2 separate regions of the Homo sapiens genome follow, and region 1 is linked to region 2. The links come from fine-mapping of genetic effects on gene expression. Tissue or cell type: lung. Region 2 holds a variant in brackets; the other region holds the start of a gene. All regions are shown on one strand. Distances are from middle to middle.

What was found. PIP is the estimated chance that this variant, and not a neighbour inherited with it, causes the effect.
Region 1: it holds the start of LINGO1, and the variant in region 2 is fine-mapped to the expression of LINGO1 in lung (TOPMed, PIP 0.94).

Annotation. Positions count from the first base shown.
Region 1 is chr15:77,630,050-77,635,153 of GRCh38, forward strand. It overlaps LINGO1 (leucine rich repeat and Ig domain containing 1), which reads right to left and starts at 2,863. Exons shown (of 2, transcript NM_032808.7): 1 at 2,261-2,863. The coding sequence starts at 2,266. It overlaps LOC105370906 (a long non-coding RNA gene), which reads left to right. Exons shown (of 4, transcript XR_001751806.2): 4 at 236-412. RefSeq lists enhancers at 1-287, 3,682-4,245, 3,687-3,816.
Region 2 is chr15:77,867,607-77,872,802 of GRCh38, forward strand. No RefSeq gene overlaps it. Among named protein-coding and RNA genes, the nearest start is that of TBC1D2B, 210 kb to the right of the region's middle. RefSeq lists enhancers at 1,260-1,760, 3,625-4,463. The variant G/A (reference allele first, on the strand shown) is at 3,025.

The DNA.
Region 1 (5,104 bases), 240 kb before region 2:
AACCATGGAGGTGGGTGGGGCTGGAAGGCCACTTCCACAGAGTGCCACACACAGGACAGCTAGCCCAAGAGACTCCAGCCAGCAAGCTAAGGCCCTGACTCTGAAACCACCACACCTACTACCCACCGCCCCCCACCCTTCCCTGGCTCCACTTCCCCTACCCTCCACTGGACACGCTGCCTCATGCCTCCGTGGGACCCTGCACGAATGACTGCACTGCCTTATCTCCCAACAGGAACACGCCCCAACCCCAATTGTGCTTCTCCAGATATCTGCGGCTGAAGGCGCCTGAAGAGCAGCACCACACATGAGCCCTCACCGGCACCAGGGATCCCGTCTAGCCTCATGCAGAACAACCACCCACCTCCACAAGAGGTTGTTTTTTGGGGGGTTGGGGTGGGGGAGGTGTCCCTCTGGGAGTCTGGGTTTTAGAAAACAATACCCAATATAGGAGAAATGGATGCCCAGAGGACAGAGGATGAAGATGAGCCCAGATGAAAGAGGACTATCGCAAGGGGTAAGTCTCTCCACCTCCCTCCCAGTCACACAGGGCCCTTGGCTTTGAGCACATGCCCATCCCCCTAAAAGCTGGTTCCCACTCTTTAACTCCAGAACCTGGGGAACACTGCAGCTTTAACTAAGCCCTACCCAGGGGCTCACACTTAAATTGTCAGGGGGTGAGGAGGGGGGCAGAGACAAGAACACCACAGGGTGCCTGTCCCTGCCTTCGCTAAGCCCCTTCCAGGAGGGGCAGCTGGGTGCTGCTGGGATCCCCGATGTGAGTCTGTGCCCTCTTTCAGCACGGTTCCAAGGAGTTATTGGTCTCTCCCCGGTGCCACCCTATACCCTCCCTCCCACCTCGGGCCACGGGTAGAAAGCAGGAAGGACAGGCATGCCATCCCAGTAGACCTGCTGCTAGTGCCTTCCCAGAGGCGTGAGGATTTTGAGCTCCTCCCTGGCTTATACAAGGACAAAGGGTCTGGGAGCAGCTGGCCCTCTTCTCCTCACTGACACTCTGCGCTGGATCTGGGGAAGCCCCAGGCTCTCTGCCGCCTGGGTGTCCCGGCTCATTGCTCCCTGGGCATGGGAGGCACCAGTGCTGAAGCCACTGGCATAATGACCAACAGGGTTGAGCCCAGAGCCGCGGGCCAGGCTGGGCTATGCGCCCTCTGGCTGCCCAAACCAAGCAGAGGACTGAGGGAGGGCTGGGCGAGCAGGAAGGGGCTGTCCAGATGCCACAGCCCCTACCTCAGGGCCTCCTGCACTCCCACCCGCTCAGGGCAGAGCTCTTCCCATCCTCTCAGGCCCCCTTCTGCCCCACCCCAACCCCAAGGCCTCTGAGAACAAAGAGGAGGTGCAGGCACAGTCAGGCTGGACCAGGCTGGGCTGCGACCCCAGCAGGAACCGGGAGGGGCTGCCCACTGGCCTGGCCCCACCCCTCCTTCTCAAAGTGGGATCCGCCCGGAGGGTCACATCTCCTGGCATGCCTTGAGAGCAGAGAGCCCACAGCCCACCCCGAAAAGGGTGTGAGGGGGAGCAGGAGGCTCCCTCCTTACCTCCCTCTTCTCAGCTGGTTCCCACCTCCCACCCGCTCTGCCTTAGAATGAAAAGTGGGGCAAGAGGAGGTGAGAAGCCCGGGCTGAACGCAGACAAAGGGGAGGCCCCTAAAGCGTTCCTGGGCGCTCCCGGTCCCCAACTCCCTTCCTTCCACTCTCCCTACTCCCCATCTCCTTTTCACTGGGCAGGAGCTGGAAAGGGGCGATGCTTGTGTGTGGTGGGGAGCTGCCATCCAGGCTGGAGCTTGTGGAGAAACCCAGCCCCTGACCTGTGTCCACCAGCTAGGGAGTGTCTGGTGCTGGTGGGGGCTGCCTGGGGGTACCTGGGGTCCACGAAGGGAGGTACCCACCCAGGGCTGAGCAGGGGGCTTACCCTCTAGAGTGACCAATACTCAGAATGGGAGGGGGGACAGGAAGGGGAGACCAGAGCAGGTCTGGGACACCCGTGGGGGCCCCTCCCCAGCTCCAGGCTCCCAGCTTACAAACCCGGAATTTGTTGGGGTTGGAGAGAGGGGAGGTGGAAAAGGAAGAATTTTCATTTCTGAGGCTTGAGGGGAAATCAGGCCTATGACCCCAAAGGAGGTCTGGGTGGCACCGAGGTGCCCTGCAACCCCAGGAGGGCGCAGCCAGGGCCGATGGCGGCCCCCAGGGGCACTCGCCGCGGGGCTGCCCGCTCGGGGCTCGGCCGCGGCCGCCTGGCTCACCTGCATCTCGGGCGCGCCTTCGGTCCGCTCGGCTCGGTCACCAATCGCATGTCTCTCCAGCCGGCCCGACCAGGCCCCAGCCCCTGCCCAGCCCCCTCCTCCGTTTCCTCCTCCTCCGACACCTCCGCCCGGCAGTCCGCGCGCCCTCGCGGGGCTGGCTGTCCGTCTGTCCGCCCCGCGCGGGCGGGAGCCGAGCCGGAGCCGGGGCCGGGGCTCGGGAGTGGGGAGGCGGGAGGCCGCGGCCCCGGCGGGCGGATGGGCGGGCGCGCTCAGGCCGCGGGACAGGGGCTGCGCGAGCCTGCTTCTGCCCCCTGGGCCGGCCCGGAGCCGCCGCCGCCGCCTCTGCCGCTGGGGCCGGGGTCGAGGCCGGGCGCGCTCCGCCGCGGGGCCGGGGCCGGCGGGCAGCGGCCGCGCATGCTGCTCGGCGCCCCGCGTCGGGAGAGGGGCCGGAGCGGCGCGGGTGGGGACTCCGCGCCCTCCGGGGCCGGGACCAGGACCCACCGCCGCCGCCGCCGCCTGCGCTGTCGCCCGCCGCCCGCTCCGGCTCCCGCGCCGGCTCCCGCTCGGGCTCCGCGCTCTGCAGCGGCGCGGGGAGGGAGCACTAGGAGCGAGCCAGGGAGGGAGGAGGGATCGAGGGAGGAGGGAGCGAGTGAGCCGCGGGAGCCGGGCGGGGGAGGAGAAGGCGCGGCCGCAAAACCTGGTGATGGTGGTGGTGGGGTGGGGGGTGGTTCGTCTCCTTTCAGCGGAGGGGGCGGAGAGCGAGGGGCGCCCCAGCCGCTGCCCTGCACGCTTAGGGCAGCGAAACAGGCAGGGGTGCGCAGGCGAGGGGCGCACCAGCCAGGCGCTCCAGCTCTGCACACGGCCGCGCCCCTCCGGGTCCGGGGCTCTGGGCGAGTCCCGGGCCAGCCGGGTGTCGGGGAGTCCGGCGTGCGGTCCTCCCTGGGTGTATGCGCGCACACCGTTGTGTGTGATTTTTGTGTTGCCACATGCGTGTGCATGTGAGCGCGCGAGTGTGTTTACACGTGTTAACTGGGCTGTGGACGAACACACGCACGAGGACGGACAGGGCTCCCTACACGAACAGGGTTGTTTGGAGGGCGGCATGGGGAGGCCGACCGGGAGCCCCCGTCCTGGCCCTGTCCCCTCCTCTCGAAAGTCCGCGAGGCTAGAGGGCCCACATTCTAGCGCGGGAGGGCGAGGCAGGCAGAATGGGAAGCTCCAGGGGACGGCGAGGAAGCCGCGCTGGCCCGGCAGCTCTACCCAGGAGCCGGGGTCCCCGCCCAGCCTGGCTTCCTGTCCAGCAGAGGGCGGCAGGCCTCTCTGGCCCGCTCCGTCCGGAGGCCCTGCACCCAGTGGCCAGCAGAGGGCAGCGCAGAGCCTCCGCCTGGGCTTGACTGTTCCCTCCTCCCGGAATGGTCCCGGGGATCCTCGGCTGGGGCCACAACTTCAGACGGGCCCAAGGAATGGGACCTCTCCTCGGAGATCCAGATCCTCCTTGATCCTCAGATACAGAAACTAGGCCAGCAGGGATGTCTTGGCAAAGCCTGCAGAGTAGGTTACCACCCTCAGGACCTCACCTTTTTCCCTATACTACCCCCTCCATCTCCTTGAAGCCAGACGCCCTTTACCACCAAGCCAGTTTTATTAGAATAACCATCAATGCTGACACCGCCCGGCACGGCCATCCCTCCTCCCCTGCTGGGAACAACCCATTAGCACATGAATACTCCTAATAGCTTGAGTCCACAGGGGCAGCTGAGGCTGGGGGAGGGGATCTAGCCCAAAGCCTCTCGGATTCTGGGGCAGACGCTGGAATCCCAGTTCCAGTGACACCCCCTCTCCCAGGAAGCCTGCGCAACATCATTGCAGAGATGCCTGGTTGCCACGGAGGGACCTCTCCCCACCCCCAACAGCACCTTGTTTCTCGCTGTTCAGCCTCACACACAGCCCAAAGGCTTGCACAGACCTTCTGTTCCAGCTGCACCATTTCTGGGTACTTCTCAGTCTCTCTGGCACACCGTTGCTCTGGACAGTCCTGTCTGGAGCACTTTCTCCTGTCTCCTATGTCTATGCCCATCCTCAACCTAGGCCTAGCTAGAGTCCCTCCTAGCAGGCGTCCATGCTATGCTCTACTGTGAACTGTACGTTCACCCTCCAGCAACTCTGGGGGAGGCACTATTGTTCCCCTGTGACAGAGGGAGGGAAGCCCAGGCCCAGAGAGGTTCCAGGCTCTGCCCATGGTCACACAGCCAGCAAGCCACGGAAAGGGAACTGGACTCGTCTTCTATGGCTGAATGGACCAGCAGGGGGCAGGCTCGGCAGAAGGACTTACAGGTGGGAGGTGAAGCAGGGAGGCCAGCACAGGAGTCCCCCTCCCTGCCAGAGCCCAGCGCAGGCGACTCCCCGGTCCCTCAACTCCGCGCTGCCTGGACCCCTCCCCAGACTCCCCAGCCCCCCCACCCCGGCTGTTTGTGAGCTACCCGTGCGCTCCCGCCCTCCCGCGCCGCCTCCTCCCACCAGCCCGACAGGAATAGACGCTCGCTGGCTCCTGCGTAAAGGCTCCGCCAGGCACCCGGCGGGCGCGCAGACCCGCTGGGGGGCGGGGGCGGGGGCGAGGGCTATTCCTGGTGCGGTGACTGACGCAGGCAAGGCGCGGCCACCACATCTCTCCGCCCCCGACTCACCTGCTCCCTGCCTCAGTGATCTCGGCGGAGAAATGGGGGAGAGCCCACTCATTCCACCCCGCTAACCCCCAGGTGCTACCGGAGGAAGCTGGGGTCCTAGGGTGGGGTATTTTGGTGCCCACAATGATCCCTCCGCGCCTCGGAGGCAGCAGGGATGACC
Region 2 (5,196 bases):
ACTGTGGGGCTTCACACTGAAACCCACCCCTGTGTGTACACGTCTCTGTTGGATCCGTGTGCTTGCACCGTGTGTCTGGGGAGTTGCGCGTTACCGTGCAAGTCTCTGTGTTGTGTGTGTGTGCGCTAGACCTATGTGCACACCTCTATTAATGCAGTATGTGTGTACATGCATATGAGCATATCTGTGTGCCGGCGTCTGTGTGTCTGTGTGTGCAACATACACGCACCCTTGCCACCCTGCACACATCTCCTTCCTGGCTCCCTTGAGCTAGCAGCCTTGTCCCCAACAGGAGGCCCATCGTGCCGCATCTCTGGAGTGATGGCAGTGGTGGCAGTGGCAGTGTGGGTATCAGGAGCCTGCAGGTGGGAAGGTGGAGGTGGCGCAGGGGAAGGTGCTTGCTAATGAGGCCATCTTCCTTGCCAGCCTGAGAGTCGTTGCCACTAATGATCTCTTCAGTAAGCAGCTCCCTGGGGAAGGGTTGCTGCCAGAGCCCTGCTCTCTCCCTCCCCTGGGACTCTCCTTTCCCCACTTCCCCGAATCCCGAGGCGCTGCAAGAGCCATGAGCACCAGGATAAAGCACAGACAGAGCCAGGGGCCAGTGCCTGGTCCCACCAGGACCCAGGAGACTGTTCGCCTGCCCGTCAGCCTGCCACCAGGAAGCCCACCTTGTGATGAACCCTCTGTGTTAGGGCACAGTCTCCAAAAGGCCTCTGCAAGTCCACATATGCTTCTGGAGGAAGGGGCCCTGCACACCACAGACAGGGAGTGTGCTTCTGTAAAAGGAGCACTCAGCTGGGAGTCAGGCAGGCTGGCCACTAATCCCAGCGCTGTGTGACCTCGGGCAGGCCCTGCACCTCTCTGGACCTTGGTTTCCTTGTCTGTAAAATGGGGGAAGGCTAGAATGGCTGGTAAATGCTCAGCTCTGTGAGCCATCTGAACCTGCTTTGTTTCACCAATAAGGAATCACCCATAATGCGGGGAGAATAGAGCCACTCTAAACCTAAAGCAGGATTAGATGGTACATGGAGCTGAGCATTTGCTATTTTAACTTTGTGTTTACTTTCATGGATATATTTCATGTGTATATTTTCACATATATGTGTATATGTATGTGTCTGAGCGTGTATGTGCACATGTGTATGTGTACATGTGTGCGGGTATTTGACTAGTACATCAGACCCTGATTTCACAAATATGGCTAAAGACGAGGCTAAAACACACACTTAAATTTTAAAAGTAAGCTGATTTTTAAAAAACGCTAAGTAAAGAAGAGTTCCAGTGGCATCTGAGTGTAGCAAAAGTCCTGATGAAACATGACAAATGGCTGCAGCCCTGGCCTGAGTGGCCCTGTCCCCTTCCTGCCTAAGGGACAGTGGATTCGGGGCCCCGGCCTCCCTGGAATAAGAGATACACAGACTGGGCTCTGATCTCCCACCATGTCCTCACAGCCCCAAGACAGAATGCCATGCGGATTGGCAGGAGACCTCGCTGTGGGGTTGGTGGAGCCAACCCTCCAGGCCACAGGCCCCATGAGATCTCTGAGGCCACAGAGCGTGTCCACACGTGTGACCTCCAGGGTGATGCGGGCCAGGGCACACGAATGGCCCAGGCAGAGGTGGTCTGGGCAGAGGTGGCTCAGGCTGGGCCTGAGGCATCCTGGGGACTCAGCATCACATCTCCTCAGAGGGGCCATCTGAGACTGCTGGGCCCGTGAAGAGGCTTCTCCCCAGTACCCACCTGTCCAGGGGAGAACAGCCAGCCCCACAGCCCCAAATGTCTCTGTCCTCCAAGAGGCCGGATGTGAATCACAGGAATTTACAGCCTGGCCTGGCATGGGATTTACGAGTCTGCCTCCAGCCGGGGCTGGCGGGGAGTGGCTGCTGTCAGCCCCCCATTGCCGTGATGGATGAGGCTGTTTCCTGCAAGACAAACTCCCCTCTGTGGCAGGCAGTGGAGGGAGAAACATCCAGGCCCTAGGGCCAGCCCCATACCTGTCCCAAAGCCAGATTGCTCATGCCCTCCCTTGGATCTGCCCAAGATGGGACATACCACACTCAGAGCCAGAATGGATCTCTGAGGTAACCCAGAACACACACACACACACACACACACACACACACGCACGCATATATACACACACGTGCATGCATGCACATACACAGTACACAGATGAGGAACCAGGGTCCAGAGAGGAATGGGCCTTGCCCGAAGTCACCCAGCAGCACAGTGGTGAAGCTGAGACCCCAGCCCACAAGCCCCCTGGACTGGTCATTTCAGTGTCCGGTCACAGTGGACTGTCATATGGCCACGGGGGTAGTTTTCACCTCCAAACACGGGCATCTCTCCAGAGAACAGACAGTCCTGGGTTTGAGTCCCTGCCCCACCACTCTGTGTGTAAAGGTCATAACCTCTCTGTGCCCATTTCCTCACCTGAAAAATGGGGCTCAAAATAACCCCAACTTACCAAGGTTCTTACGAGGTTCAAGTGAGAGGATGCAGGTAGAGCCGCAGGACAGAGTGGGCCCCTGGCACATGCTCCCTGAGTGGTGACAATGGTTCTCCACCATCTCTCGTGTCTCAAGGGGCCCTGCTGCCTGATTTGCTGCGGGCAGGAGGACAGTCATGGTTGGGTGGAGGAGGAGGAGCAAGGAGAGTTCGAGTGTGGGACTGCAGGGCAGGAGTGAGGCCACTTCCTACTGGAGGAGACCCTGGAAGTCTCCCTGGAGGTGGTGGCGTCAAGCAGAGGATGTAGAACTCTGTTTCTCTTGCTCTGAAGCTGACTGGAGGCTTCTTGAGTGCCACAGGGACAGAGGGAAGCACCCTACACTGCACTGAAAGCCCAGCCCAAGCTTCTGCCCTGGATGACCTGAGGAGGAGTCCCTCCTTTCTCTGGGCATCCGCGAAATGGGGCCAGGGAGGACCAGACAACACGCAAAGGCGCCTTTCTGCTCTGGCCCTTGTGCAAGCTGAAGAAGGCTGTCCAGACTCACCCTCTGCAGTACCCAATTATTGCCACTGGGC[G/A]GAAGCAGGGAGTAAATCTGCGGTCCGGCCTCCTTTCCCTGCCGGCCAGTCCTTCCCTGCGCACCTGGTGATCTTTGCTCCTCCACCCGCCAGCCAGCTCGGCGGAGAGCCAGAGCTGAGGGTCCTTCACATCCAGACATCTGATGCTCCCCACAGCCCTGCAGAGAACCAGCATGGTGGCTGCATTTCAGATGGGGAAACTGATGGCCAAGAGGTGAGGACTTGCTCAAGGTCACGCAAGAGCCAAGTGTGCCCACAGCAGAGGCGGTGTGAAAGGAGACTGCGGTCACACGGACCTGGCTGGGATCCTGGTCCCCTCACCTCCGGCTGTGTGTCATCGGGCAGGTCACCCACCCTCTCTGAGCCTCAATTGATATAAGTGCTGAACACATGAAGCCACCACTTTGTTTCCAATAGAGTTTATGCCCCAAGAGTGCAAAGTCATGTCTGTCACTCACCTCAGCACCCCCAGAGCCTGGCACAGGGTGGGATTCAGAGAATAGCGCCTGCCTCCCGGGGCCTGCCTGGCACTCAGCAGATGCTGTGTCTCCTCAAAACCCCCAACAGCCCTGGATCAGCGTCGCCTTGTTCCCCTCCCATCAGTCCTTCCTGCAGGACACCGACCCACCCGGCCTTGAGGGGGGCTCCTGCTCACCTCCCCACCCCATCCCTCTCGTCCCCCTTTCTCTGTTCTGGCCTCTCCCTTGTGTCCCTCTCTCCTGCCGAGCCCCCACTTGGCTCTACGCTGTTTACAAGACAACGATGACAGTTTTTCTTTCTCTCTTTTGTCTCCCTTCCTCCCCTGAAGGGAAACGTGCTTCCAATCTTCCAGGAAAAAATGAAGGCTCCGGATGAGAAAAAGCAAACAAAGGACAGTGGGACCGTGGGTGTCCCCACCCCCGCCACCTGCAGGCCCCACATGCAAACCAGCGCCCGTGCCCACGCCCGTGCAGCCATCCTCCGCCAGGCCCCAAGAACGGCTCTGTTATTTTTGGGGTAATTGAAAATGTCGATCTTTATTCTAGAGGATAAGCAGGTCACAGGGACACAGGGAGCCAGAGAGAGAGAGAGAGAGAGAGAGAGAGAGAGAGAGAGAGAGAGAAAGGAAAGCCAGTCATGGGGGAGGATCTGGGGGAGAGAAAGGCCAGATGGGAGGACGTGGGCACTGAGAGGAAGAGGGAGCGGGAGAAACGGCAGGGGTGGGCAACTCCCTGCCAGTGAGCAAGGCCACGCGGCCCCTGACCCCAGGACTCAGGGGGATGTGTCCTCCCACCAGCTCCTGACCCCACCCTGTAAGGAGCTGGTGGCAGGAGCTCCTGTTTAGTCCTCCTGTGCCTGAGCAGCCCCGAGGGTGGGCATCTCTGAGTGCTGGGAGCAGGAGTGGGGACCTGGCTTGTCTTCATGGGAGTGCCCTCTCATGACCACGTGCACAGCGCCCAGAGGCCAGGCCCCAGGCTGGAGGGCTGAGAGCAGCCAGCGGTCCCCTCTCCTGGGGGAATGCAGGGACTCTTCTGACCTCCCTCCCATCAGCCATCCCACCTCTCTCTGGATGTGGCGGCATCTCATGGTTTGTGGACTTACTTCTCCAGGGCAGTGGGGGGCGCCAGTGAGCCTGGGTGGGTGCATATCTGTGCAGGAGATGAGATTCCTGGGAGAGAGGGACGGGGTGGGGTGGGGGGAGTAAGAGGTGTGGCTGTGCATGGCGTGGGGCCTGTGCGCATGTGTGGTATAAGTGTGGGTCGCGTCTGCTTTTTCCCGTGACTAGCATGAAGCATGCGTTTGAAGGCAGTGGTGGTACCAGGTGTGTGTGTGTGGAGTAAGGTGTGGGTCTGTGCATTTGTGTGTGTGTCTTGCTCCACGTGTGTGCGGTAAGGGACATGTGTGTGTGCACAGCCCCTACCTGTGTGCCTCCAGATGGTGTGTCCATGTGTCCCTGCAGGCAGGGCCCCTCTTCTGCTCCTGGCCCAGGGCCACCATCCCCCCAGGTCCTGGGAACCAGAGTGGCAGTTGGCCTTGGGGTTCCCTCCAGCAACAGTGGAACAACAGAGACCAGCCCCCACCCCAGCCAGTGTCCAGGAGGCTCGTGGGACTGTGATGTCAGCACCAAGCCCTGGCTGAGGTAACCCAACATGGAGCCAGGCCTGTCTTGCCCCCTAGAGAGAAGGGAGGAAC